2 separate regions of the Homo sapiens genome follow, and region 2 is linked to region 1. A link means that fine-mapping ties the variant in region 1 to the expression of a gene that starts in the linked region. Tissue or cell type: whole blood. Region 1 holds a variant in brackets; the other region holds the start of a gene. All regions are shown on one strand. Distances are from middle to middle.

Region 1 (15,861 bases):
AAAAAATGACAATGAAAAGTATAGTAAAAATATAAACCAGTAACATAGTCTTTTATGATCATTATCAAGCATTAGGTACTGTACATAATTGCATGCACTCTACTTTTATATGACTGGCAGGACAATAGGTTTACCCCAGCATCACCACAAATACATGAGTAAGGCACTGTGCTACAGCGTTATGATGGCTGCAATATCACTAGGTAATAGAATTTTCTAGCTCCATTATAACCTTATGGGACCACTGTTGTCTATATGGTCCATCGTTGACAGAAACATCATTACGTGACACATGACTGTAATATAAAAGGCCAAACTGGGCTGGGTGCGGTGGCTCATGCCTGTAATCCCAGCACTTTGGGAGGCCAAGGCCGGCGGATCACCTGAGGTCAGGAGTTCGAGACCAGCCTGGCCAACATGGTGAAACCCCATCTCTATGAAAAATACAAGAATTAGCTGGGCATGGTGGCAGGTGCCTGTAATCCCAGCTACTCAAGAGGCTGAGACAGGAGAATCACTTGAACCTGGGAGGCATAGGTTGCAGTGAGCCGGGATTGCACCACTGCACCCCAGCCTGGGCAACAAAGAGTGAAACTCCATCTCCAAAAAAAAAAAAAAAAGGCCAAACTGTGCAAAGTAAGTTTCTGATCTCCAGTGCCCACCAAGAGGCAATTATTATTTCTAGTTTCTTGGTTGTCCTTCCAGAAATATTCCAGACCTGCACTATTCATACAGTGTTCACTAACCATTTTGAACACTTGAAATGTGGTTAGTTGGAACTGACATGAGCTGTATATGTAAGATACCAGATTACAAAGAGTTAACGTGAAAAAAGAATGTAAAACCAGGGGCAGTGGCTCACGCCTGTAATCCCAGCACTTTGGGAGGCCAAGGCAGGTGGATCACGAGGTCAGGAGTTTGAGACCAGCTTGACCAATATGGTGAAACCCTGTCTCTACTAAAAATACAAAAATTCGCTGGGCGTGGTGGCGCATGTCTGTAATCCCAGCTACTTGGGAGGCTGAGGCAGGAGAACTGCTTGAACCTGGGAGGCGGAGATTGCAGTGAGCTGAGATCGTGCCACTGCACTCCAGCCTGGGCGACAGAGTGAGACTCTGTCTCAAAAAACAAGAAAAAACAAACAAAAAAAAAACATAATTTTTATATCGATCGTATGTTGAAATGACAATCTTTCGGGGCCAGGTGCGGCGACTCACACCTGTAATCAATCCCAGCACTTTGGGAGGCCAAGGCAGGTGGATTGCCTGAGCTCAGAGGTCCGAGCCCAGCCTGGGCAACACAGGGAAACCCCATCTCTACAAAAAATGTAAAAATTAGCCAGGTGTGGTGGCATGCACTTGTAGTACCAGCTACTTGGGAAGCTGAGGTGGGAGGATCACCTGAGCCCTGGGAGGTCGAGGCTGCAGTGAGCCATGATCACACCACTGCCAGCCTGGGTGATGCAGTGAGATCCTGTCTCAAAAAAAAAGCAAAACAAACAGACAAAACAAAAAACAAATATTTTTGATATACTGGGTTAAATAAAATCAATTATTATAATTGATTCCACCTGTTTCTGTTTAGTTTTCAGTAACTAGAAGATGTTAATTTACCTATGTGGCTTGCCTTGAAATTCTACTATTGAGTGCTGGTCTAGATATATATAAGTAGTAACAGCAGGGTGGAATTTGGAAGTTACAACATGACATAGAGCTTGTGCCTCATTCTCAAGTGAAAGGGTACGTGCCCCAAGCCCAGCCAAGTGCCCCACTCTCCCACCGTGGGGGTTGGATTCCCATGCTCACCTGTTGTACAGCTGCTGGGAGCTGAATGTATAAAGCACATAGAGGGTGTTCCCCGCCAGAAAGGCCAGGATCCACAAGATGACCAGCACTGACCTCTTCTCCTGAAGACAAAGCAAGAGATATGTGATATCAAAGGTGCATGTGGCAGAACCTTCCAGAATGTACCCTGATGACTGGCAGCTTTTCACTTTGTCAACATTTTGAAGGAAGTGGTGCTGAAGGTGAAAGGAAGGGCATTGGCACCTTTCTATTCCACTGATACCCAAGCGGTGGTCACGGAGAAGGTGGCAGAATGGTGGACATCTGCTTGAAAAACTATCTAGAAAGGCAAGAGAACACCATGGTTCGCAGCAGACTCCAGAGCAGCATGGCACACATTCAAATCCCTGGTCAAATCCTGTGTGGGAGCTGTCCAACTCCAGGCAAGTTATTTAAACTCTTTCAGTTTCCCTTTCCTCATCTGTAAAATGGGTATATCTTAGTATCTACCTTATAGAGTTGTAAGAATTAAAGTACATAAAATGCTGTTAAGAACTAAAGCACAGAGAGGTTAAGAAACCTCAAGGGGCTGTGTTTTAAGTCTCAGTGTCTTCATTTGAAAATGGGGTTGTTAAAGATTAAATCAAATTTTTTATTTTAATTTTTTTTTCTGTTCCCTAGGCTGGAGTACAGTAGTGTGATCATAGCTCACTGTAACCTTGAACTCCTGGGCTCAAGTGATCCTCCTGCCTCAGCATCCTAAGTAGCTAGCACCACAGGCAGGTGTCACTATACCTGGCTAATTAAAAAAAAATTTTTATTTTTTTTTAGAGACAGAGTCTTGCTATTTGGCTCAGGCTGGTCTTGAACTCCTGGCCTCAAGTGATCCTCCTGCCTTGGGCTCCCAAAACACTGGAATTACAGGCAAAAGTCAAATTTTTAAATGCAAACATTCAGTCTGGTACAGATTCATATTTAAAGCTTGCTAAGGGGTAGGACTGATTATTAAGAGTTTACAACCCAGCAGAAGATTCAGATCTAGAGGCTGGAAATTTCTGCTTTCACTTTTTCTAGGGAAGACCTCTGGCCCGCTGCCCTGGACTGACCATTCCATGGAATGCCACAGTGTAGAATTAAATCCAAGCTTATATACCTAATTCTCAAAGCCCTTCACAATCCAGCCCCATTTCTCCTTCTTCAGCCTCATTCCTGTCTAGTCCCCAGGAAGACAAATTGGAAATCCTCAGTTTGCTGTTTCCCAGCAGTTTCATAGCCTGACAGCAATCCTAGGAAATGTCTGAAGGAGATGCAAAGGGGGGCGTGTTCCTGCCTATGTACCCTGGGACACATAGGCAGATCCCTCTGCTGTTGATTCTCAACAGCTCGTGCCTTTTTTCAGACTGGAGTGGCTGCATTGCTGGAATAAGATGAGGTCATAACTTTCCCAGTGTAACCTTCCCTGTGGTTTCGGTAAATGCTCAATACACAGTGTCTCCAGACACAGCTCAGTGCCCCACGCACTGTTATGATGCACATTTCCAGAGAGTGGACGAAACAAATGCATCTCCATCCACCCATTATTCCAGGAGCAGTCAAGGTTAATGATGCTAGAAACCACCTCCAACCAACCAACTGCTCTTATCAATGTGATTAATCCACCTGGCAGCTCTTTTTACTCCAATGAATAATAGATTCCAGTTTAATTCTCTATGAATCCAAACCAAAGGTGGAATAGGAAGAGGGAATTAGCAATGTTCTGGGAAGACAGAAACTGAAGGACAAAGGAGGTAGTTCTCTCCTAATCAGCTGCGACGCCTAAGCTTACTAAGGGCCATGTAGACCTGCTCTTATGGAAGATACGCACATACAGGCAAAGTGTCACCTGTGTCTTCATGAGCATCAAGGACCCCTGGAGGCCCGTCCATGGATACAGAGATCCTCTCAGCTCCTAAAATTTAAGTCAAGGTGCCATTTGGATGTTACTGCATTTGAGACAGACCTAGCCCCCAAAGCTGCCTCCTACTGTTTTGTTTGTTTGTTTTTGAGACGGACTTTCGCTCTTGTTGCCCAGGCTGGAGTGTAGTGGCGCAATCTCAGCTCATTGCAACCTCCGCCTCCTGGGTTCAAGTGGTTCTCCTGCCTCAGCCTCCCAAGTGGCTGGGATTACAGGCGCCCACCACCATGCCCAGCTAATTTTTGTATTTTTAGTAGAGACGGGGTTTCACCATGTTGGCCAAGCTGGTCTCGAACTGCTGAACTCAGGTGATCTACCTGTCTCAGCCTCCCAAAGTGCTGGGATTATAGGCGTGAGCCACTGTCCTTGCCCCCTCCTACTGTTTTAACAACAGCAGAAAGGAGTTTGCATAAAGAAGATGAGACTAAGGGTCAGGAAGGACCTCTGACTCTGTCCCCAACTCCGAACCTCAATGTGCTCATGTGCAAATGGAGACTGGGTTGTCCTCCATGCTGCATGGAGGCCCAAGTGCTTTTGAGAAAGCAGACGATGCTATAGAAGGGTCAGTGAAGCTGGTGATTATTATGGGATCACCTGTGCAGGAGAAAGCACAGACTTTAAAAAAAAAATTATTTCCATAGGTTTTTGGTGAACAGGTGGTATTACATGAATAAGTTCTTTTGTGGTGATTTGTGAGATTTTCGTGCACCCATCACCTGGGCAGTATACACTGAACCCAATTTGTAGTCTTTAATCCCTCACTCCCTTCCCACTCTTTCCCCCAGAGTCCCCAAAGTCCACTGTATCATTCTTATGCCTTTGCATCCTCATAGCTTAGCTACCACTTATGAGTGAGAACATACAAAAGGTTTAGCTTTTCATTCCTGAGTTACTTTACTTAGAATAATAGTCTCCAATCCCATCCAGGTTGCTGCGAATTCCATTAATTCATTCCTTTTTATGGCTGAGTAGAATTCCATCATATACATATACCAGTTTCTTTACCCACTCATTGGTTGATGGGCATTTGGGATGGTTCTACATTTTTGAAATTGTGAATTGTGCTGCTATAAACATGAGTATGTAAGTATTTTTTTCGTATAATGACTTCTTTTCCTCTGGGTAGATGCCTAGTAGTAGGATTGCTGGATCAAATGGTAGTTCTACTTTTAGTTCTTTCCCCCCCCGCCCCCTTTTTTTTTTGAGATGGAGTCTCGCTCTGTCACCCAGGCTGGAGTGCAGTGGCGCGATCTCGGCTCACTGCAAGTTCCAACTCCCAGGTTCACGCCATTCTCCTGCCTCAGCCTCCCGAGTAGCTGGGACTACAGGCGTCTGCCACCACATCCAGCTAATTTTTTTTTTGTTATTTTTTTTTTTAACTGAGATGGGGTTTCACTGTGTTAGCCAGGATGGTCTCGATCTCCTGACCTTGTGATCCACCCACCTCAGCCTCCCAAAGTGCTGGGATTACAGGCGTGAGCCACTGCGCCCCACCTAGTTCTACTTTTAGTTCTTTAAGGAATCTCCACACTGTTTTCCATAGTGGTTGTACTAGTTTACATTCCCACCAGCAGTGCAGAAGTGTTCCCGCATTCATGCCGACATCTATTATTTTTTGATTTTTTGATAATGGCCATTCTTGCTGGAGTAAGGTGGTACTGCATTGTGGTTTTGATTTGCATTTCCCTGATCGGTAGTGATGCTGAGCATTTTTTCATAAGTTTGTTGGCCATTTGTATATCTTCTTTTGAGAATTGCCTATTAACATCCTTAGGCCACTTTCTGATGAGATTTTTTTTTTTTTTCTGAAAGCACAGACTTTTGAAAACTAGCTCAATTAAATGTTTCCTACATGCCAGGCACCATGCTAAACATTGCCTTCTTTTTATTTTTTCTTAAACAGAGAAGGTCTTGTTCTGTTGCCCAGGCTAGAGTGCAGTGGTGCAATCATAGCTCACTGCAGCCTCAAACTCCTGGGATCAAGCAATCCTCCTGCTTCAGCCTCCTGAGTAGCTAGGATGACAGGCACATGCCCCCACACCTGGCTAACTTTTTAAAAAAACTTTTGCAAGCCAGGTATGGTGGCTCACGCCTGTAATCCCAGCACTTTGGGAGGCTGAGGTGGTCGGATCACCTGAGGTCAAGTGTTCAAGACCAGCCTGGCCAACGTGGTGAAACCCCATCTCTACTAAAAATATAAAAATTAGCCAGGCATGGTGGCATGCACCTGTAATCTCAGCTACTCAGGAGGCTGAGGCAGGAGAATCACTTGGTAATCTTGGTGGTGCACACCTGTAATCTCGCTACTTGGGAGGCAGAGGTTGCAGTGAGCCGAGATTGCACCACTGCACTCCAGCCTGGGTGACAGAGTGAGACTTCATCTCAAAAAAAAAAAAAAAAATTGGTAGAGAAGAAAGGGGTCTTGCTATGTTGCCCAGACTGGTCTCAAACTCCTGGGTTCAAGGGATCCTCCCGCCTCAGCCTCCTGAGTTGCTGGGATTACAGGCATAGGCCACCATACCCAGTACTTGTGCTAAACACCTTGTATGCACTATTTCTTTCTTTGTTTTTTTTTTTTGTTTTGAGATGGAGTGAAACCATCTCAAACCATCAAACCATCTCAACCCAGGCTGGTGTGCAATGACACAATCTTGGCTCACTTCAACCTCCACCTCCCAGGTTCAAGCAATTCTCCTGCCTCAGCCTCCCAAGTAGCTGGGATTACAGGTGTGAGCCACCATGGCTGGCTAATTTTGTATCTTTTTAGTAGAGACGGGGTTTCACCACGTTGTTCAGGCTGGTCTCAAACTCCTGACCTCAAGTGATCCACCTGCCTTGGCCTCCCAAAATGCTGGGATTGCATGCATGAGCCACAGTGCCTGGCTCTTTTCTTTTTTTCTGTTTTTTTTTTTTTTTTGAGACAGTCTCACTCTGTCACCCGGGTTGGAGGGTGGTGGTGTGATCTCGGCTCACTGCAACCTCTGCCTCCCAGATTCAAATGATTCTCATGCCTCAGCCTTCTGAGTAGTTGGGATTACAGGCGTGAGCCACCGCGACCGGCCTGGATGCACTATTTCATTCAATCCTTTCAATGGGTTTGTGAATTGGTGCCAACAGGCTCTTTTCCAGAGGCGGCACCTGAGGCTGAGATCACCAAGGTAACCTAATTGAGGGTCTGCAGGTGGGTGGAGGAGCAGGGATTTGAACCTGGAATGAGCACGGGCTCAACTACCCAGGTGCAAATCATGATGCCATCACTTGCACTGGCTGTGTGACCTCAGGTAAGGAACTTAGTGTCTCTGAGCCACTGTTTCCTCAGTGGGAAAATGACAGAAAAATGATTTTGTTTCCCTCCCAGGTTGCTGGGATGAACCTGCTGAGATGAGCAATGGGCTCAGTACTGTGCCGGGCACGCAGTTAGTGCTCAGCAGACACAGAGGACATGCAGGAGGATGGTGGTGAAGCTCTATGTCCACCCAGCAGCATAAGAGGAATGGCCATAAGCATGAAGGTGGAATGAAAGTAACCTAATGGGGCCAGGCATGGTGGCTCACGCCTGTAAACCCAGCACTTTTGGAGGCCAAGGTGTGCGGATTACCGGAGGTCAGGAGTTTGAGACCAGCCTGGCCAACATGGTGAAACCCCGTCTCTACTAAAAATACAAAATTAGCTAGGCGTGGTGGTGTGTGTCTGTAGTCCCAGCTACTGGGGAGACTGAGGCAGAGGAATTGCTTGAACCTGGGAGGCAGAGGTTACAGTGCGCCAAGATCATGCCACTGCACTCCAGTCTGGGCAACAGAGCAAGATTCCGTCTCAAAAAGAAAAAAACAAAAAATGAAAGTGAGCTAATGAGCTGAATGTCTGCGGCGTAAAGGGACTGGGCTAGGTGTACGTGGAGGAGATGCTGCTGTTGGAGGGGAGAAAGAAGGAACATTCAGGGATCTACCCAGGGGTGATAGACCGAAGAATGGCCTCCCTAGGAGGCTGAGGTCAGAGGATTGCTTGAATCCGGGAGTTGGAGGCTACAATGAGCTATGGTCATGCCACTGCACTGCAGCCTGGACAACAGAGCAAGACTCTGTCTCTAAAAATTATGAAATAAAAGAAGAGGTTTTGGTGAGATCATGGCGGATGGGAGGCAGGACTAGATTGCAGCTCCAGAGAGAGCAGCGGGCGGCAGCTCGCATTGTGAATTTTAGCACCAGATTGACTGCAAGGACAAACCAGCAATCCCGAGAGGACCCACAGACTCTCTGAAGGAAACGGACTGCTCCTGCAGGACCCAGGAGAGCCCCCCAAAACTGCGAATGCCCCAACTGCGGAAGTGGGAAAGGGAGACCCTCCTCTCCCGAACACTCACCCTCACGGGGGAAGCTGAAGGTCTGTTTGCAGGAGAAGTTTCCAACTTTATCTGGCGCTGAGTCAATTTGGAAAGCCAAGCAAAATACAGGCGTAGAGGAAGCAGCAGCAAGGCCCTGGGAGCTCACTGGGTCCCCCAGCAGCCCATTCCTGTCTGGCACCACGGGGATCCAATGGGTAGGAGCAAGGGCTAAAACTCCACAGGGAGAAGCAAATCTCTAGCTGAACTGTGTAACAATTTGAACAGGGTAAGAAGCCTCCTGGCCAGAACTCAGGGGAGGGTGCAAATCCAGTGTGCAGACTCCACAGCGGCGGCACGAACTAAACCCTCTTCTTTGGCAGCTGGGAGGCGGATAGTCTGGGGCAGGTTTTCAAGCCCCTATCGCTCTCCACCTGGAAATGGTCTGGGGGCTGTTGTGGTGGGCATGGTGGGAGTGAGACCGGCCCTTCGTTTTGCAGGGGAGCTGGGTGAGGCCTGTGACTGCCAGCTTTCCCCCACTTCCCTGACAACCTGCATGACTCAGCAGAAGCAACCATAATCCTCCTTGGTACACAACACCAGTGACCTGGGAATGTCATCTACTTAACCCATAGCAAGACCCGCCCAAGGAGAGTGAGAGGTCAGAAACGCCTAGCCTCACCCCAACCCGATGGTCCTTCCCTCCTACCCACCCTGGTAGCGGAAGACAAAGGCCATAGAA[A/T]CTCGAGAGTTCTAGAGCTCCACGGGTTCCTCGCCACGCTACCACAGCTGATGCTCTCTGGAAAGCGCCACCTCCTGGCAGGAGGCCAACCAGCACAAAAATAGCGCATTAAACCACCAAAGCTAAGAACCCTCACGGAGTCCATTGCACCCTCCACCACCTCCATGGCAACAGGCACTGGTATCCATGGCTGAGAGACCCATAGACAGTTCACATCACAGGACTCTGTGCAGACAACCCCCAGTACCAGCCTGGAGCCAGGTAGACTCGCTGGGTGGCTAGACCCAGAAGACAGACAACAATCACTGCAGTTTGGCTCACAGGAAGCCACATCCATAGGAAAAGGGGGAAGAGTACCAAAAAGAGGGAAAACCCCCTGGGACAAAAGAATCTGAACAACAGCCTTCAGCCCTAGACCTTCCGTCTGACGGAGTCTACCCAAATGAGAAGGAACCAGAAAACCATCCCTGGTAATATGACAAAACAAGGCTCTTCAACACTCCCCCAAAATCACACTAGTTCACCAGCAATGGATCTAAACCAAGAAGAAATCCCTGATTTACCTGAAAAAGAATTCAGAAAGTTAGTTATTAAGCTAATCAGGGAGGGACCAGAGAAAGGCAAAGCCCAGTGCAACGAATTCCAAAATATGATACAAGAAGTGAAGGGAGAAATATTCAAGGAAATAGATAGCTTAAAGAAAAAACTATTAAAAATTCAGGAAACTTTGGACACATTTTTAGAAATGCGAAATGCTCTGGAAAGTCTCGGCAATAGAATTGAACAAGTAGAAGAAAGAAATTCAGAGCTCGAAGACAAGGTCTTTGAATTAACCCAATCCAACAAAGACAAAGAAAAGGGAATAAGAAAATATGAACAAAGCCTCCAAGAAGTCTGGGATTATGTTAAATGACCAAACCTAAGAATAATCAGTGTTCCTGAAGAAGAGAATTCTGAAAGCTTGGAAAACATATTTGGGGGAATAATCGAGGAAAACGTCCCCGGCCTTGCTAGAGACCTAGACATCCAAATACAAGAAGCACAAAGAACACCCGGGAAATTCATCGCAAAAAGGTCTTTGCCTAGGCACACTGTCATCAGGTTATCCAAAGTTAAAACGAAGGAAACAATCTTAAGAGCTGTGAGACAGAAGCACCAGCTAACCTATAAAGGAAAACCCATCAGATTAACAGCAGATTTCTCAGCAGAAACCCTACAAGCTAGAAGGGATTGGGGCCCTATCTTCAGCCTCCTCAAACAAAACAATGATTAGCCAAGAATTTTGTATCCAGTGAAACTAACAATCATATATGAAGGAAAGATACAGTATTTTCAGACAAACAAATGCTAAGAGAATTCACCCATTACCAAGAATTTGCCATTACCAAGTCACCACTATAAGAACTGCTAAAAGGAGCTCTAAATCTTGAAACAAATCCTGGAAACACATCACAACAGACCCTCTTTAAAGCATAAATCACACAGGACCATAAAACAAAAATACAAGTTAAAAAGCAAAAACAAAAAATGAAAAAACCAAAGTACACAGGCAACAAAGAGCATGATGAATGCAATGGTACCTCACATTTCAATACTAACATTGAATGTAAGTGGCCTAAATGCTCCACTTAAAAGACACAGAATCACAGAATAGATAAGAACTCACCAACCAACCATCTGCTGCCTTCAGGTGACTCACCTAACACATAAGGACTCACATAAACTTAAAGGGGTGGAAAAAGGCATTTCATGCAAATGGACACCAAAAGCAAGCAGGGGTAGCTATTCTTATATCAGACAAAACAAACTTTAAAGCAACAGTGGTTAAAAGAGACAAAGAGGGACATTATATAATGGTAAAAGGCCTTGTCCAACAGGAAAATATCACAATTCTAAATATATATGCACCTAACACTGGAGCTCCCACATTTATAAAACAATGACTAACAGACCTAAGAAATGAGATTGACAGCAACATAGTAATAGTAGGGGACTTCAGTATTCCACTGGCAGCACTAGACAGGTCATCAAGACAGAAAGTCAACAAAGAAACAATGGATTTAAACTATACCTTGGAACAAATGGATTTAACAGATACATACAGAACATTTCATCTGACAACCGCAGAATACACATTCTATTCAACAGCGCATGGAACTTTCTCCAAGATAGACTATATGATAGGCCACAAAACGAGCCTCAATAAATTTAAGAAAATTGAAATTATATCAAGTACTCTCTCAGACCACGGCAGAATAAAACTGGAAATCAACTCCCAAAGGAACCTTCAAAACCATGCAAACACATGGAAATTAAATAACCTGCTCCTGAATGAGCATTGGATCAAAAATGACATCAAGATGGAAATTAAAAAATTCTTCAAACTGAATGACAATAATGACACAACCTATCAAAACCTCTGGGATATGGCAAAGGTGGTGCTAATAGGAAAGCTCATAGCCCTAAATGCTTACATCAAAAAGACTGAAAGAGCACAAACTGACACTCCAAGGTCACCCCTCAAGGAACTAGAGAAACAAGAAGAAACCAAATCCAAACCCAGCAGAAGAAAGGAAATAACCAAGATCAGAGCAGAACTAAATGAAATTGAAACAAAAAAATTCAAAAGATAAACGAAACAAGAAGCTGATTCTTTGAAAAGATAAATAAAACTGATAGACCATTAGCAAGATTAACCAAGAAAAGAAGAGAGAAAATCCAATGACCTCACTAAGAAACGAAACAGGAGATATTTCAAGTGACACCACTGAAATATAAAAGGCCAATCAAGGCTACTATGAACACCTTTATGCACAAAAACTAGAAAACCTAGAAGAGATGGATAAATTCCTGGAAAAATACAACCCTTCTCGCTTAAATCAGAAAGAACTAGATACCCTAAACAGACCAATAACAAGCAGCGAGATTGAAATGGTAATTTAAAAATTACCAACAAAAAAAAGTTCAGGACCAGACAGATTCACAGCAGAATTCTACCAGACATTCGAAGAATTGGTACCAATCTTTTTAACATTATTCCACAAGATAGAGAAAGAAGGAACCCTCCCTAATTCATTCTATGAAGCCAGCATCACCCTAATACCAAAACCAGGAAAGGACATAACCAAAAAAGAAAACTACAGATGGATATCCTTGATGAACATAGATGCTAAAATCCTTAACAAAATACTTGCTAACCGAATCCAACAAATTACCAAAAAGATAATCCACCATGATCAAGTGGGTTTCATACCAGGGATGCAGGGATGGTTTAACATGCACAAGTCAATAAATGTGATACACCACGTAAACAGAATTAAAAACAAAAATCACATGATCATTTCAATAGATGCAGAAAAAGCATTTGACAAAATCCAGCATCCCTTTATGATTAAAACTCTCAGCAAAATGGCATACAAGGGACATACCTTAGTGTAATAAAAGCCATCTATGATAAACCCACAGCCAATATAAAACAAACTTTCCAGATACAAGATTAATGTACAGAAGTCAGTAGCTCTTTTATACACCAACGGCGACCAAGTAGAGAATCACATCAAGAACTCAACCCCTTTTACAATAGCTGCAAAACAAAAAACAAAAAACAAAAAAAAACCTTAGGAATATACCTAACCACGGAGTTGAAAAACCTCTACAAGGACAACTACAAAACATTGCTGAAAGAAATCATAGATGACACGAACAAATGGAAACACATCCCATGCTCATGAATGGGTAGAATCAATACTGTGAAAATGACCCTACTGCCAAAAGCAATCTACAAATTCAATGCAATCCTCATCAAAATACTACCATCATTCTTCACAGAATTAGAAAAAAAAAATTCCAAAATTCATATGGAACCAGAAAAGAGCCCACATAACTGAAGCAAGACTAAGCAAAAAGAAAAAGCTGGAGGCATCACACTACCTGATTTCAACCTATACTATAAGGCCATAGTCACCAAAACAGCATGGTACTGGTACAAAAATAAGGACATATCTTTTCCTTTCAGCCGGAACTGCCATCTTCTAGTAATTCGCCAAAATGACGAACACAAAGGGAAAGAGGAGAGGCACCCGATATATGTTCTCTAGGCCTTTTAGAAAACATGGAGTTGTTCCTTTGGCCATGTATATGTGAATCTATAAGAAAGGTGATATCGTAGACATCAAGGGAATGGGTACTGTTCAAAAAGGAATGCCCCGTAAGTGTTACCATGGCAAAACTGGAAGAGTCTACAATGTTACCCAGCATGCTGTTGGCATTGTTGTAAACAAACAAGTTAAGGGCAAGATTCTTGCCGAGAGAATTAATGTGCATATTGAGCACATTAAGCACTCTGAGAGCCGAGATAGCTTCCTGAAATGCATGAAGGAAAATGATCAGAAAAAGAAAGAAGCGGAAGAGAAAGGTACCTGGGTTCAACTCAAGCGCCAGCCTGCTCCACCCAGAGAAGCACACTTTGTGAGAGCCAATGGGAAGGAGCCTGAGCTGCTGGAACCTATTCCCTGTGAATTCATGGCATAATAGGTGTTAAAAAAAAAAAAAAAAAAGACCTCTGGGCTATAAAAAAAAATAGGGACATAGACCAATGGAACAGAATAGAGAACCCAGAAATAAACCAAAATACTTACAGCTAACTGAACATAACAAAAACATAAAGTGGGGAAAGGACACCCTTTTCAACAAATGGTGCTGGGATAATTGGCTAGCCACATGTAGGAGAGTGAAACTGGATCCTCATCTCTCACCTTATACAAAAATCAATTCAAGATGGATTAAGGATTTCAACCTAGGACCTAAAACTATAAAAATTCTAGAAGATAACATTGGAAAAACCCTTCTAGACATTGGCTTAGGCAAGGATTTCATGACCAAGAACCCAAAAGGAAATGCAATAAAAACAAAGATAAATAGCTGGGACCTAATTAAACTAAAGAGCTTTTGCACAGCAAAAGGAACAGTCAGCAGAGTAAACAGACAACCCACAGAGTGGGAGAAAATCTTCACAATCTGTACATCTGACAAAGGACTAATATCCGGAATCTACAACAAACTCAAACAAATCAGTAAGAAAAAAACAAACAATCCCATCAAAAAGTGGGCTAAGAACATGAATAGACAATTTTCAAAAGAAGATATACAAATGGCCAACAAACATGAAAAAATGCTTAACGCTGCTAATGATCAGGGAAATGCAAATCAAAACCACAATGTGATACCACCTCACTCCTGCAAGAATGGCCATAATCAAAAAGTCAAAAAACAATAGATGCTAGTGTGAATGCGGTGGACAGGGAACACGTCTACACTGCTGGTGGGAATGTAAACTAGTACAACCGCTATGAAAAACAGTGTGAGAGATTCTTCAAAGAACTAAAAGTAGAACTACCATTTGATCCAGCAATCCCACTACTGGGTATCTACCCAGAGGAAAAGAAGTCATTATTCAAAAAAGATACTTGCACACGCAAGTTTATAGCAGCACAATTCACAATTTTAAAATTGTGGAACCAACCCAAATGCCCACCAATCAACGGGTGTATAAAGAAATTGTGGTGTATATATATGTATATACATATATACATGGTGGAATGCTACACAGCCATAAAAAGGAATGAATTAACAGCACTTGCAGTGACCTGGATGAGATTGGAAACTATTATTCTAAGTGATGTAACTCAGGAATGGAAAACCAAACATTGTACGTTCTCACTGATATGTGGGAGTTAAGCTATGAGGACGCAAAGGCATAAGAATGATACAATGAACTCTGGAGACTTGCCGGGAAGACTGTGCCTGGCTTGTGGCTTATTTGTTGCAGCAGCCACAGGAGACTAGGTCGGAAAGTGACTCACCTTCAGTGAGACCTGTTCTCGAAGCGTGGAGTTGGCATAGGCGAAGGTGCTGGCCATCCCGATGCACACAGCAATGCCTGTGGGACAGAGAAGGGCCTGATGTCACCCACTTAGACTCATCAGGCCTAGCCCAGGTGCTGAGCAACATGGGGGAAAAGGCACATCCCTGGTCCCCTCAGAGTTGACAGAAGAGAGAGAAAAATAAAAAAAATCCCACTTCTTGGGGATTTGGGCTGCCATCTAAATCTCTGGGAATTCTGAGCCATTCTGACTTAGGGACAGGATTTAGGTCCCTGTGGGGATACTTTATAGCACTGGATCAGGGGATGGGCTGTGCAGTCTGGTAAGGGCTGGGTTCAATTCCCAGCTCTGCCACTTCCTCTCTGTTTGAGCTTGGGCAAGTCACCGCACCTCTCTAAGCCCCAGTTTCCTCATCTGTAAAATGGACAGAACAATAACATTACTTATACCTCATAGAGGGATAAAGCTTCTAGATCATAATCCCTAGCAGTTAGTGAATGATGCCTCTTATTATTTCTACTTTTAAAAAGAATCTGATTGATAGAATCAGATAGAATTTGTGATAAAAGCATACATTGAAAAAACTCACCGCTGGGTGCAGTGGCACACACTTGTAATCCCAGCACTTTGGGAGGCCGAGGTGGGCAGATCACTTGAGGCCAGGAGTTTGAGACCAGCCTGGCCAACATGGTGAAATCACATCTCTAGTAAAAATACAAAAATTAGCCACACATGGTGGCATGTGCCTGTAGTCACAGCTACCCAGGAGGCTGAGGCACAAGAACTGCTTGAACCCAGGATGGGGAGGCTGCAGTGAATTGAGATCACACCACTGCACTCCAGCCTGGGCAACAGAGCAAGACTCTGTCTCAAAAAAAAAAAAAAAAAAAAGAAAAAGAAAAAAGAAAAAGAAAAAACTTACAACGCCATAAGGAATTCAAGTTTAATGTTCAATGAGAAAAAAAAATCCCAGCTAACAGACAAACATGACCCAGGCAGATGGCAGAACGGAATTGAATTTTCTTCCACCAGTCATTTCATTGCCACTGTTTGCCAAGCTACAATCTTGGAATTCTCCCCAAATAATGATTTTCGAGTCCTGCTTTTTGTTATTTGTAGACAGGATTCCTCTTTCACCTGATGCACTTACTGTTTATTTATTGAGACACTGTCTCACTCTG
Region 2 (12,972 bases), 20 kb after region 1:
CCCAGGGCTTCCCATTCTGTGTTCCTTCCCATGGTCTCAGAGGAACCCTCTAGACAGGTACAAATATCATTCCCAAATATCATGTTCCTTACTGACAAACAAACTGAGGCTCAGAGAGATGAAGTTGCCAGGCGCCCTGGATTATTTGACTCCAAACTCCAATCTTATCATGTGCCCCTTTCTCATCATTCAAGGGCTTTCTACTACAGGCTATCACCTTCACCGGATGTCTCCCCTAACCCGTACCCCATCCCAACTAGGTAATGCACGCTCATCTGTCAGATTTCAGCTAAAATCTCCCTCCCTGGATTGAGGCTTCACTCCTTCCTAGACAATGACAGTCCCCTGCTCCTTGCTCTCACTGCACCCTCATGTCACCTGCACAGGATTGATCACAGCTGTTATTTTATTCCTCATCTTTCCCTTGAGACCTGTGGCTCTCAATCCTGGCCATATATTATAATCACTTGGGGGAGCTTTTGCAAAAGACAGGTGCCCCGACCCCACTGGAGACCAACTGAATCAAAATCTTTATGGGTGGGCCCCAGCACCTGAAGTTACTCAGAGTCCCCTCAGTGATTCTTGTTTTTTTTTGAGCAGGGTCTCCCTCTGTCACCCAGGCTAGAGTGCAGTGGCGCGATCTCGGCTCACTGCAACCTCTGCCTCCCGGGCTCAAGTGATTCTTATGCCTCAGCCTCCCGAGTAGCTGGGATTACAGGTGTGCGCCACTATGCTTGGCTAATTTTTGTATTTTCTGTAGAGATGGGTTTTCACCATGTTGGCCAAGCTGGTCTCGAACTCCGGAGCTCAAGTGATCCACCCGCCTTGGCCTCCCAAAGTGCTGGGATTACAAGCATGAGCCACCATTCCCCACTGCCCCCCGCTACAGTGATTCTAATGTGTGGTCAGTGCTGCAAACCATAGCTTTGGACAGAGCTCCACTCCACAAGGTCAAAGACCATAACCTTGCTCCCCACTGTATCTTTACCACCCGGCACAATGCACCTGGCACTCAGAACATGCTTAATAAAAAGTGTTTGAAAGAATACATGAACAGGCATACTAAACGCTCTGAGAAGGCCTGCAAGTGAAATAATGGACTTTGCTTAAGCCCAGTGTTCCCCAAACTTATTTGACCACAGAATTCTTTTTATCCATGAAAAACCATTTAACAGCTTGCAGAACACCTGTGACACACAGCAGTGGGACACGGTGGTTTCCCTGGCTGCACAAACTGGGCCTGCAGGTATGTTACTAAAAACCTAGTGAGGCCAGGCATGGTGGCTCATGCCTATAATCCCAGCACTTTGGGAGGCTGAGGTGGGCAGATCACTTGAGGTCAGGAGTTTGAAGCAGGCTGGGTGTGGTGGCTCACACATGTAATCCCAGCACTTCGGGAGGCTGAGGTGGGAGAATCACTTGAGGCCAGGAGTTTGAGACCAGCCTGGCCAATATGGCAAAAAACCCTCTCTACTAAAAATACAAAAATTAGCCGGGCATGGTGGTGCATGCCTATAATCCTAGCTACTCAGGAGGCTGCGGCAGGAGAATCGCTTGAACCGGGGAGGCAAAGGTTGCAGTGAGCTGAGATTGTGCCACTGCACTCCAGCCTGGGCAACACAGTGAGACTCTATCTCAAAAAAAAAAAAAAAAAAATCTGGTGCAATGGAGGAAACTCACGATTGGATTCCCTCCCTCACCAAGCCCCACCCCTGCTGGCTCCAAAAGCCCAGGAAATATGCGCTCCTCCTCCACTGGGCTCTGGATAATAATAATGATAATATTAATAATGACAACAACAGCAAACACCATGGCTATGATCCTCAAGGGGCCTTGAGCTTTTTCTGCACTTCAAAGAGCTCAGCTCAGAAAGCAAGAGCCCTGGCAGGTACCCATGTTGGTCCATGAGGAGGCCACTCTCTCTCCGTGGCCACCCAAGGGGCCCTAGAAAGCCATCCTGTCCCCCTTGAGCTTGCCAGCACTCTGAGTTCACTGGGCTCAGGGGCCTCCAGTACAACCAGGGAAGACTCAACTCACCAAGGGGCTTTTTATAGCTGGCCTCCCTTCCCTGGGCCTCTCCCCTGCATCCAGCCGAGATTTCAGCCTGACTGGGAAAGAATATTCCTTAGGGGGACAGAGGCTGTGCTTCCAACTTAACCACTTAAGCGCCAGAGCTTGAGGCAACCCAGGAGGAAAAGTGGTTCTGCTCAGACACTAGGCAGCCAAAATGTGCTATCTCAAAGCACAGGTGCTGGGGGACACAGGGATGGGGGCCCAAATCTCAGCCCTGCTACTTCCTGGCTGTGTGACTTTAGGTAATTTCCTTCCCCTCTCTGAGCCTCAGCTTCTGCATTTGTAAAATGGGTGCTCTCACTGGGCTAATGTGGCGGTTGGCACAGCATAAGCACTCAATACACGGTTTGAGTTTCCTGCTGTGCTCTCTGCCCGCAAGAGATCTCATGGTTCACTTGAGAGCAGATGACAATGTTGTCTTTAGAGGCGGAAAAGGTTCCAACAGGCAGGCTTATTACAAGCCGGATGCTGTTTCTGCATCTTCACACTCACTCCTTCATCCATAAACAACTCTTTTTTTTTTTTTTTTTTGAGGAGGAGTCTCACTCTGTCACCCAGGCTAGAGTGCAGTCGCATGATCTCTGCTCGTTGCAGCCTCCACCTCCAGGGTTCAAGTGGTTCTCCTTCCTCAGCCTCCTGGGTAGCTGGGACTACAGGCATCTGCCACCACACTGGCTAATTTTTGTATTTTTAGTAGAGATGGGGTTTCAGCATGTTGGCCAGGCTGGTCTCAAACTCCTGATCTCAGGTGATCAGCCTGCCTTACCCCCGCAAAGTGCTGGGATTACAGGCATAAGCCACCATGCCTGGCCCATAAGCAACTCTTGAGTTCTGTTACCTGCCATTTTTGGATGGAGAAGCTGAGACCTAGGGGTGAAGTCATGTATCAAAGTCACCACAGGTGGGAAGTGGCTGAGCTGGGGTTTGGCTGAGCCCCGTGTTCTTCCCTGCAGAACAGGCAGGCACCATACAAAACTCAGTCCCAGTGCTGGGACCGGGGGATACCATTTGTGATTCTGTAGCCAACCCCAGAGTCGCAGGGGGTATGGGATGTGAGGAAGGGAAGGCTTGGCTGCCCGCCCCTTGGATGTATGTGCTAGGACAGGGCTTCTGGGGCTGGAGGCTGTCCCAATCTGAGAACAGGCCCCCAGGTGTGTTCCCTCTTGGGTTTCAATAGATATAAATTCTAGGCTGGGTGCAGTGGCTCATGCCTGTAATCCCAGCCCCTTGGGAGGCTGAGGTGGGCAGACTGCCCAAGCTCAGGAGTTCGAGACCAGCCTAGCCAACATGGTGAAACCCCATCTCTACTAAAATACAAAAAAATTAGCCAAACGTGGTGGTGCGTGCCTATGGTCCCAACTACTCGGGAGACAGAGGCATGAGAGTAGCTTGAACCCAGGAGGCGGAAGTTGTAGTGAGCTGAGATTGTACTACTGCACTCCAGCCTTGGTGACAGAGCAAGACTCCATCTCAAAAAAAAAAAATTCTAGCTCATGAGTGTTTTTTAACCGGTTTTTTTTTTTTTTTTTTTTTTTTTTTTTTTAGATTCTACCTGGTATCTATTAATCACAGGGCCAAACTAACGGCCAAAGTTATTTACATGTCCTTGTGATCCAGAGCCCATAACCCCAACCACTGCTTCATTTAACCTTTTTTTTTTTTTTTTTTTTTTTTTTGAGATAGGGTCTCACTCTGTTGCCCAGGCTGGAATGCAGTGGTGCAATCATAGCTCACTGCAACCTCCACCTCCTGGGCTCAAGCAATCCTCCCACCTCTGCCTCCTGCATAACTAGGACCACAGATGCATGCCACCATGCTGGGTAAGTTTTTATTTTTTGTAGAGATAGGGTCTCCCTATTTTGCCCAGGCTGATCTCAAACTTCTGGGCTCAAGCAATCCTCTCACCTTGGCTTCCCAAAGTGCTGAGACTATAGGTATGCACCACCATACGTGGCTAGTTTTAAAGTTTTTTAGTAGAGACAGGATCTCCTCATGTCACCTAGGCTGGTCTCCAACTAACTCCTGGACTCAGGTTATCCTCCCACCTTGGTCTCCCAAAGTGTTGGGATTACAGGCGTGAGTCACTGCATGGCCCTTCCTTCATCTAAGTTTTACACACGCAGCCAATATTTCTCCTGTCCTAAATCATCTAGGGCCAGACACCAAACTAAAGAGCACCTTGAGGCCAGGCGTGGTGGCTTGCGCTTATAATCCCAGCGAGCAGGAGCTTGGGCGGCCAAGTCGGACAGATCGCTTGAGCCCGGGAGTTTGAGACTAGCCTGGGAAACATAACAAAACCCTGTCCCTACAAATACAAAAATTAGCCGGGCATGGTGGTGCATGCCTTTAGTCCCAGCTACTCGGAAGGCTGAGAGGTAGGAGGATTGCTTGAGCCTGAGAGGTCGAGGCTGCAGTGAGCCGAGATCGTGCCACTGCATTCTAGCCTGGGCAACAGAGGGAGATCCTATCTCAAAAAAAAAAAAAAAAAAAAGAAACCACCTCGGTACCCCAGAGCCCACCAACATGATTCAAACTAGCCAGTCCTAAACTATTGCCCCTGCCTTGCCTTTCTTTCCCCCAGAAAACACAATAAAGGCTGTGGCCTATGCTTTTTCCTCGGTCCTTTCTGCCCTCTGACTATTGCTGGTGCTTCCCCAGGTGGCCCTGCAAGCAGTAGTATGCCCCTTCATCTTGAGAAATGGAAGAAATAAAAATCTCATCTTTCAATGTCATTAGCCTCTCCGTGTTGTTTCTCAGAGCTATGATCTCAATGTTTGTGTAGATTCTTATGTTGAAACCTAACCCATGCCAGGTGCAGTGGTTCACACCTATAATCCCAGGGCTTTGAGAGATCAAGGTAGGAAGATCGCTTGAGCCCAGGAGTTTGAGGCCAGTCTGGACAACTTAGTGAGACCCCGTCTCTACCAAAAAATTTTAAAAATTAGCTAGGTATGGTGGCACATGCCTGTAGTCCCAGCTACTCAGGAGGCTGAGGCAGGAGGATTGCTTGAGCCTAGGATTTGGAGGCTATAGTGAGCCATGATCACCACTGCACTCCAGCCTGGGTAACAGAGCAAGACTCTCTCTCAAAAAAGAAACCTAACCTGTAATTTGATCGTATTGGAAGGTGGGCCTTTGGGAATGATTAGGTGATGAGATGGGCTCTTCACGAATGGGATTAGTGCCCTTAAAAAGGAGACCCAGAGAGATCCCTTTCCCTTCACCACATTAAGACATAGCAAAAGAATGGCCATCAGTGAACCAGAAAGTGGGCCTTTCGCAGACACTGAATATGCTGGAGCTTTCATCTTGGACTTCCTAGCTTCCAGCACTGTGAGAGATAAACATTTGTTGTTTAAACCACCCATTCTATGATATTTTTGTGATAGCAGCCTGTATGGACTAAGACATCTCTATAAATCAAAATTCCACAGGTACATTCATTGATACAATGAGTCAGGTGGCTCACCTATCACACAGGACTTTGAAATTTAGCATAAAAGAAAGAGCAAGCTATTATGCGTTGAATGTTTAGTATGAGGCCATCAGTGTGACTCTAACAACTAACGCTGAGGGTGAGGTATTGTTCAATCCAGTTTTGGGTTGCCCCTCACCACCCGAAGCCTAGAGCCCTCAGATGGAACAGAAGCAGGGATGCCTACCTTTCAGGTGGAATGTTATCCGTGTTGCTGCTGTGGCGTCTCTGCATCTTCCTTAACACCTAAAACCCAACACATGGGTGAGCCAGAGTCTCCCAACACTCCCACTGCCTGTCAGATTGCCAAGGTAATTGTAAACTGCAAACCTGCACTAGTCGTATCTTAGACCCCTAGTGCTCTCTGGCATTTTCCAAAGTATGTTTCAATCTTTCATGCCATTCCATCCTCAATGTGACATTCTATCCCATGAGGAAAGCTATCACCCCATTTCACAGAGGAGGACGATGAGACTCAGAGGTGGAGAAAGTCCTCATGTGAGAGGATAACGCGGTAAACTGTGCAGCCAAGAGGTGCTGGATGAAGTGAAGTGGGCAGCGGACTGGCAGGAGACATGGATTCTGGGTTGATGCTGCTGCTAACTTGCTGTGACCCTAGACAAATCAGTAACCCCTCTGTGGGTTCAGATTCCCCATGTGTTACATGGGAGGGGTGGAGTGGTCAAACCAAAACTTCCTTCCAGCTCTCACATTTAATCAAGTAGTAATAAAGATGCAAATTCTCTTGGAGACGTGTCACCTGATTCACTGTGAAGAGCCACATGGACTTCAGAACTCCATGTTGACGACACTGGAGGTAGGCATTCGGGAATCCTCAGGGGGATGTGACCAATGGATCCCAGAGAGGACAGGCCTCCCCCTCCTCTTCGTCTCCAGAGGGATGCACAGTCAGGGGAGCTTGCCAGAGACTCCAAACCTGGATGGAACAGAACACCTGGATGAACAGTCCCTGCGATACCTTGAATCTGCTAAGAAGCCTTAGGACATTGTTGGTAGCTATAAGCAGATGATTCCATCTGCTCAGTATCTCTGGGTAGCCTCTCAGTGATCCCCCCTTGAAACTCCTTTTTTTTTTTTAAGACGGAGTGGTGCGATCTTGGCTCACTGCAACCTCTGCCTCCCAGGTTCAAGCGATTCTCCTGCCTCAGCCTCCTGAGTGGCTGAAATTACAGGCTTACAGGCATGCGACACCACGCCCACCCAATTTTTGTATTTTTAGTAGAGATGGGATTTCACCATATTGGCCAGGCTGGTCTCAAACTTCTGACCTCAAGTGATCCGCCTGCCTTGGCCTCCCAAAGTGCTGGGATTACAGGCATAAGCCACCATGCCCGGCCCTCTTTGAAACTCTTAAGGTATTGTATTTCATCCTATTGTCAAACTAAGAGTCCTGATTGGGGAAGCCAGAAAATATGTTTTAAACCCTCCAACGGCTGCCCAGTGCAATCAGAATCAAACCCGAGCTCTGTCCATAGCCTACGGGTTCTTCCTGATGTAGCATCATCTGTTTCCAACTGCATTTCCTCCCATTCTCCCTTTTCCCACTCCTGTCCACCCACAGTGGCCCTTCTGTTCCTCTAATGTGTCAGCGTGTCCCTGCCTCAGGGCCTTTGCACTTGCTGTGCCCTCCCCTTGGAATACTTTCTCCTCTAAATGTGGCAGGGCTTGGTCCCGCAGGGCAAATGTCGTCTCTTCCCAGAGGCCTTCTCTTCTCATTCTCCTGACTCCCCGTAATATTGCCCTGTTTTATATTATTCATAGCACTTATTTGTTCATGTTTGCTTATTTATTTATGATTTGTCCTCCCCATTAGAATATAAATGCCATTCCTGAAAGTAGGGATCCTGTCTACTTGGATCACCCCTCTGCCTCAGCATCCAGGACACTGTTTGGCACAGAGTGGCGCTCAACAAGTATTTACTCAATGAATAAAACATCTATGGGTCTCCCAGTTCCCCTTTTCTAGATCCCTTGCTCCCTGTCCCACCTTTCACCCTAGCAAGGTAATAAGGGCCATCTACTTCCCATGAAAAGGTTTAGCCTCCGTGAATATCTTCTTGTCTCTGGAGGCAGAGCCAATATTGTGGATATAGGGTGTCTATATCAGTCAGATGGTGTCTGACTTCAGTTTAGGGCACGATTATTGGCTGTTGAATGACTTCCTAATCCTGACCAGGCTTCTTGAGGGGGCAGCAATGGTGTCACTAGGGCCACTGATTAAAAATGACCCGCCAGTGAAGCCTCCTTTCTCTTTTGAAAAATTAGGTAACAAACCGGTCAGCAGCAGCATCTTCATATATCAAGAAAAGGTCATTATATAAATATTTTTCAAGAATTTGCAATCTCAACTTAATCCTCCTCTCGCCCCTCCCTCCATTATCCCACATTGCAAATCCTTGGGGGAAAATAAAATTCATATTCCAAAGTTCTCATCCACACATTTAACTCCTAAATCGAATGCTCGAAACTCTACTTTCGGATGCTTGTATTGGAAGAGGCTTCGGATTCTTTGTCGGAAGCAGGCCGTACATAATTCTGGAATAAATTTTTGCACGCGGGATGCATCTGAATGAATGAAACGCTTTTTAATCCTCTGCTCTGTACATCCCACTATGTCCCTTTGAAGGACCGCACCGAGACTTTTCGATGCTTGCGATGGTTCAAGTTGCGCCCCTGGGGCCCGTTACAGGACTGCACCGAAATGCACTCAGAGGAGCATCGCCTGCATCACTTGGACTGGAAGCCGGCAGGTGCACTTCGGGAACAACGTCGCGAGCGCTTTTCATCCCTGCAACCAACACACAGCGCAAAACGCTCTGGGACTGCAAGGGCAGGAGACTACACAGACCATGATGGGAGAAAAGAAAAAAAAATCGCGTTCTCTTTTTACCTGCCCAGACAATTCAGCAATCACAGCCGCATCATTCAGGTCCAGCCAAGCCAATCACCCGCGCAGCCTGGGCAGCATGTGACTTCCGATGCTTCCGGCCTCCTATTGGGTGGTTTCTTGGCGTCGCCGGGTCCGGCGCTAGGACCCGGGCACAGCTACGCCCGCAGCACTCACGCGATTGTCCGCCCCCTTTCCCGGCACTTAACCAATAGGAGGCCGCCGTTCCTTAGGGACCAATGGTGAGAAGATCTTGCGCGACTAGCCCTTGTCGCTGCGGAGCGGAGGCGGGGCGTAGGGCGGGGTCACGTGGGGCTGCGCCCAAGGCTGCCGGGAGCAGACTGGGCTGCGGGCGGCGGGGCCGGCGCCTGCCTGGAGGGATGGGGCTGCCGGGCGCGTAGGGGCCATGCCGCCCGGGACCCGGGCCTGCCGCGTTCCGCGCCCCGGCCGCCGCGCCCCACGTCCGCGCCGGGATGGTGAACCTGGCGGCCATGGTGTGGCGCCGGCTTCTGCGGAAGAGGTGGGTGCTCGCCCTGGTCTTCGGGCTGTCGCTCGTCTACTTCCTCAGCAGCACCTTCAAGCAGGTCAGTGGCCGCCCTTCCCCTCCTCCCCTTCCCTTCTTCCTTCCTTCCTCCCCCTTACTTTACTTTCTCCTTCCTTCCTTCGTTACCTTCCTCCTTTTTTCCTTCCTCCCTGTCTTCCTACCCCTTCCCTTCCTTTCTTTCTCCCCTTCCCTTCCTTCCTCCTTCCTTCCCTTCTTCCTACCTCCCCTCCTTCCTTATCTTCCTCCTTCCTTCCCCTCTCCCTGCCTCCCTTCCTTCCTTACCTTCCTCACCTTCCTCCTCCTTCCTTCCTCCCCCTTTCCTTCCTCCCCCTTCCCTTTCTTCTTTCCTCCCCTTTTTCCTCTCCCTTCCCTTCCGTCTTTCTTCCTTCCCTTCCTCCTTCCGTCCTCCTCCTTTCTGTCCCCCTCTCCCTTCCTTCTTCCTTTACTCCCTTTCTTCCCTGACATCCTCTTTCCTCACTTCGTTCTTCCTCCTTCCTTCCCTTCCTCCTCTTTTTCCTTACTCCTCGCGTTTGTCCGACCTCCCGACTTCTGCAGCGGCGCCGCCGGGGCGTCCGAGGGTGGGGAGAGGTGCGCATTCCTGTCCCGGTCTCAGCACGGGTGAGGGACCTGCCCACCGCCTTGGTCCCTGCAGCGGGAAGGGGTTGCTAGGCCAGGGCAGAGCTGGGACTAGAACCCCGAGTTGAGGACCCTTCAGCGGTGGGGACTGCTTTTATGAACACCTCCCTGCTTTTCACCTGCCCGGTCCAGAGCTAAGAGAGGGCGTGCATTTGCTGGCTTCATCTTCGCAGCAGGCCTGGGAGAAGTGGGGTTCCCAGTATTACAGTGGGGGAAACCAAGACATAGGTGGCGAGGGTCGGCCAGCCCTCGCATGGGTGCCCTTCGTTTAATTTGGGGGCTCTGTGTCCTCCTGGGTGACTCAAAAGGACCCACAGTTCCTTTTATGCTTTTTGTGCATAACTTGATTGGTAGAATTCCACCCCTCCAACACACTGCACCCTTTCATTTTTCTTCCATGTGAGAATTTCTGGGAGAAACAGCAAGGAGCACGGGTGGGGAAATCTTACCCAAAGCATTAATAAGTTTGTCTAGAAGTCCAGGTTGAGTGCTTAGTTGTGTAGAAAGGGTGGTTACACCCCAGGGTGCACCCAGGATAATGGGTTATGCTGTTGTCCTGACATGGTTATAAAAAGCTCTCCTTTTTACTCTCAAAGCTCAAGTGTGTAAATAAAATATATAAGTGAATAGAACATTGATAAAACTATGTGGTCACTCTACATTTAGTGGATTGGCAGGGGAGCTGTGAAAAGGGAAGAATAGGGAATTGTACGTGACCTGCCACCTTAGGCAAACAGAGAGGCTGAGTGTTGTAAGTCCCTTTTATTGGCCGGGATGTCTGGGCAATCATGTGACTACCAGACTTCTGTGACTTGTGTTTTCTGCCACCTCAGACACCTCCTCACAGTCGCGTGTTGTCCCTTCTCTGTCTTGTGACCCCTGAGTGGTGGGGTGCGCCAGGACTCCGTCCTCTGCCTTCCTCTCTATCTGACTCAGGTAATCTCTGGGCCATTGTTTAAATACTCAGGTGATCTCTGGAGGTATGCTGTTGATGCCAGTAGTTGATAACAACAGCCTAGATCTGTCCAGAAATCCCCAAATTCTTATATCCAATTGCCTAGTTGATATCTTTTTTTTTTTTCAATTTTTTTTTATTGTGGTAAAATACGACATAAAATTTCCCATCTTTTTTTTTTTTTTTTTTTTTTTTTTTTAAAGACTGAGTTTTGCTCTTGCCCAGGCTGGAGTGCAGTGGGACGACCTCAACTCACCACAGCCTCCACCTCCCGGGTTCAAATGATTCTCCTGCCTCAGCCTTCTTGAGTAGCTGGGATTACAGGCATGCGCCACCATGCCCAGCTAATTTTGTATTTTTAGTAGAAACGGGGTTTCTCCATGTTGGTCATGGCTGGTCTTGAACTCCCGACCTCAGGTGATCCACCCACCTCAGCCTCCCAAAGTGCTGGGATTACAGGTGTGAGCCACCACGCCTGGCCAGAATTTCCCATCTTAACCTTTTTTAACATGGAGTCTCACTCTGTTACCCAGGCTGGAGTGTAGTGGCATGATCTCAGCTCACTGCAACCTCTACCTCTCGGGTTCAAGCAGTTCTCCCTGCCTTAGCCTCCTGAGTAGCTGGGATTACAGGCATGCACCACCACACCCGACTAATTTTTGTATTTTTAATAGAGACAGGGTTTCGCCATGTTGGCCAGGCTGGTCTCGAACTCCTGACCTCAAGTGATCCACCTGCCTCGGCCTCCCAAAGTGCTGGGATTACAGGTGTCAGCCACCACGCCCGGCCCCATCTTAACCATTTTTAAAGTGTGCAGTTCAGTGGTATTAAATACATCCTTAACGCTGTGCGACCATCACCACCATCCATCCCCATAACGCTTGTAGAAACTGAAACTTAATATTCATTTAACAATAACTCTCCATTTCTCCCTTTCCCCAGCCCCCGGCAACCACCCTCCTACTTTCTAGTTGACGTTGAATGTGTTCGTGTTTGGACCAACAGAACTCTTGATTCTCTGCCAGCACTTGTTCCTCCCCGAGTCTTCCCAGTCTCGCTCAGTGGCATTACTGTTCACCAGGTATTAAAGCCACTTCATTCTTTTTTTCTCCTCTCACTCCCTATATCCACAATATTGGCTCTGCCTCCAGAGTGTATCCTGAATCTGCTCATTTCTTCAGAGTGTCACTGCTGTCACTCTAGGCCAAGCCACTGGCATCTCTCGTCTGGACCACTGCAGTAGCCCAGCTGCAAGTCTCTGCTTCCATTCTTGTCTTCTTCTCTTCCCCGCAGTAGGGGTGATAATCTTTAAAAAGATGGGATCATCATGGCATTTCCCCAGGTAAAATTCTCAGATAAAACTCTGGATTGTCTTCCAGGATCTCTGCATGGTTGAATCTTTTTTGTCATTTCAGGTCAGACTGTTACTGCTTCAGACCATACCTGGTGACACGGTGTAAATTACTTCAATTCCTTGCTCATAAACCTGCTTTATTTTCTTTGTGGTAGGCATCACAAACTGAACATTTCTTGTTCATTTACTTGCTTATCTGTCTTGCCTCACTCTCTCTTCTAGACTATAATATTCTTGAGAACAGAGACCTTGTCTGTCTTGTTCATAGACTCTCCAGCCCCTAGGATACTGCCAGCCACTTCATGGGAATCCAAATATTGATTGAACAAACAAGTGAGTCTTTTTAACTGGGATGAATGTTTCTTTTCAGTCTGGCATACTTCTGCTAACCTTTCACCTCTTGGCTCAGGTGCTGTCCACTCTGTCACCTTCCCTACAACCACCTTTTCACTACCCTGATACATCATCTTCATTTTAAGATTATAGTCATGCGTCGCTCAAGATTCTGAAAAATGCATCTTTAGGTGATTTTGCTACACCCCTGGGCTATGTGGCATAGCCTATTCCTCCTAGGCTCTAAGCCTGTACAGCATGTGACTGTACTGAATACTGTAGGTGATTGCAACACGATGGAAGGTATTTGTGGATCTAAATAGATCTAAACATAGAAAAGGTACAGTAAAAATACTGTATAAAAGATATAAAATGGGCTGGGTGCGATGGCTCACGCCTGTAATCCTAGCAGTTTGGGAGTCTGAGGCAGGCAGATCACTTGACGTCAGGAGTTCGAGACCAGCCTGGCCAACATGGCAAAACCCCATCTCTACTAAAAATATAAAAATTAGCCAGGTGTGGTGGCACACGCCTGTAATCCCAGCTATGCAGGAGGCTGAGGCAGGAGAGTCGCTTGAACCTGGGAGGTGGAGGTTGCAGTGAGCCGAGATCACGCCACTGCACTCCAGCCTGGGCAACAGAGTGAGACTGTGTTTCAAAAAATATAAGAGTAAAAATGGTACGCCCATAAAGA

The links. PIP is the estimated chance that this variant, and not a neighbour inherited with it, causes the effect.
Region 2: it holds the start of RNFT2, and the variant in region 1 is fine-mapped to the expression of RNFT2 in whole blood (TOPMed, PIP 0.97). The same link has a PIP of 0.9 or more in nasal epithelium.

What each region holds. Positions count from the first base shown.
Region 1 is chr12:116,752,859-116,768,719 of GRCh38, reverse strand. It overlaps RNFT2 (ring finger protein, transmembrane 2), which reads right to left. Exons shown (of 11, transcript NM_001382266.1): 5 at 14,660-14,736; 6 at 1,806-1,906. It also overlaps the pseudogene RPL21P105. Among named protein-coding and RNA genes, the nearest start is that of RNFT2, 22 kb to the right of the region's middle. RefSeq lists enhancers at 7,790-8,989, 8,515-9,099. The variant A/T (reference allele first, on the strand shown) is at 8,799.
Region 2 is chr12:116,733,858-116,746,829 of GRCh38, reverse strand. RNFT2 (ring finger protein, transmembrane 2) reads right to left here and starts at 8,515. Exons shown (of 11, transcript NM_001382266.1): 1 at 8,460-8,515; 2 at 6,309-6,485; 3 at 5,736-5,794. The coding sequence starts at 6,332. It overlaps SPRING1 (SREBF pathway regulator in golgi 1), which reads left to right and starts at 8,761. Exons shown (of 5, transcript NM_024738.4): 1 at 8,761-9,040. The coding sequence starts at 8,930. RefSeq lists enhancers at 8,233-8,492, 9,261-10,219 and silencers at 8,683-8,942, 9,023-9,072.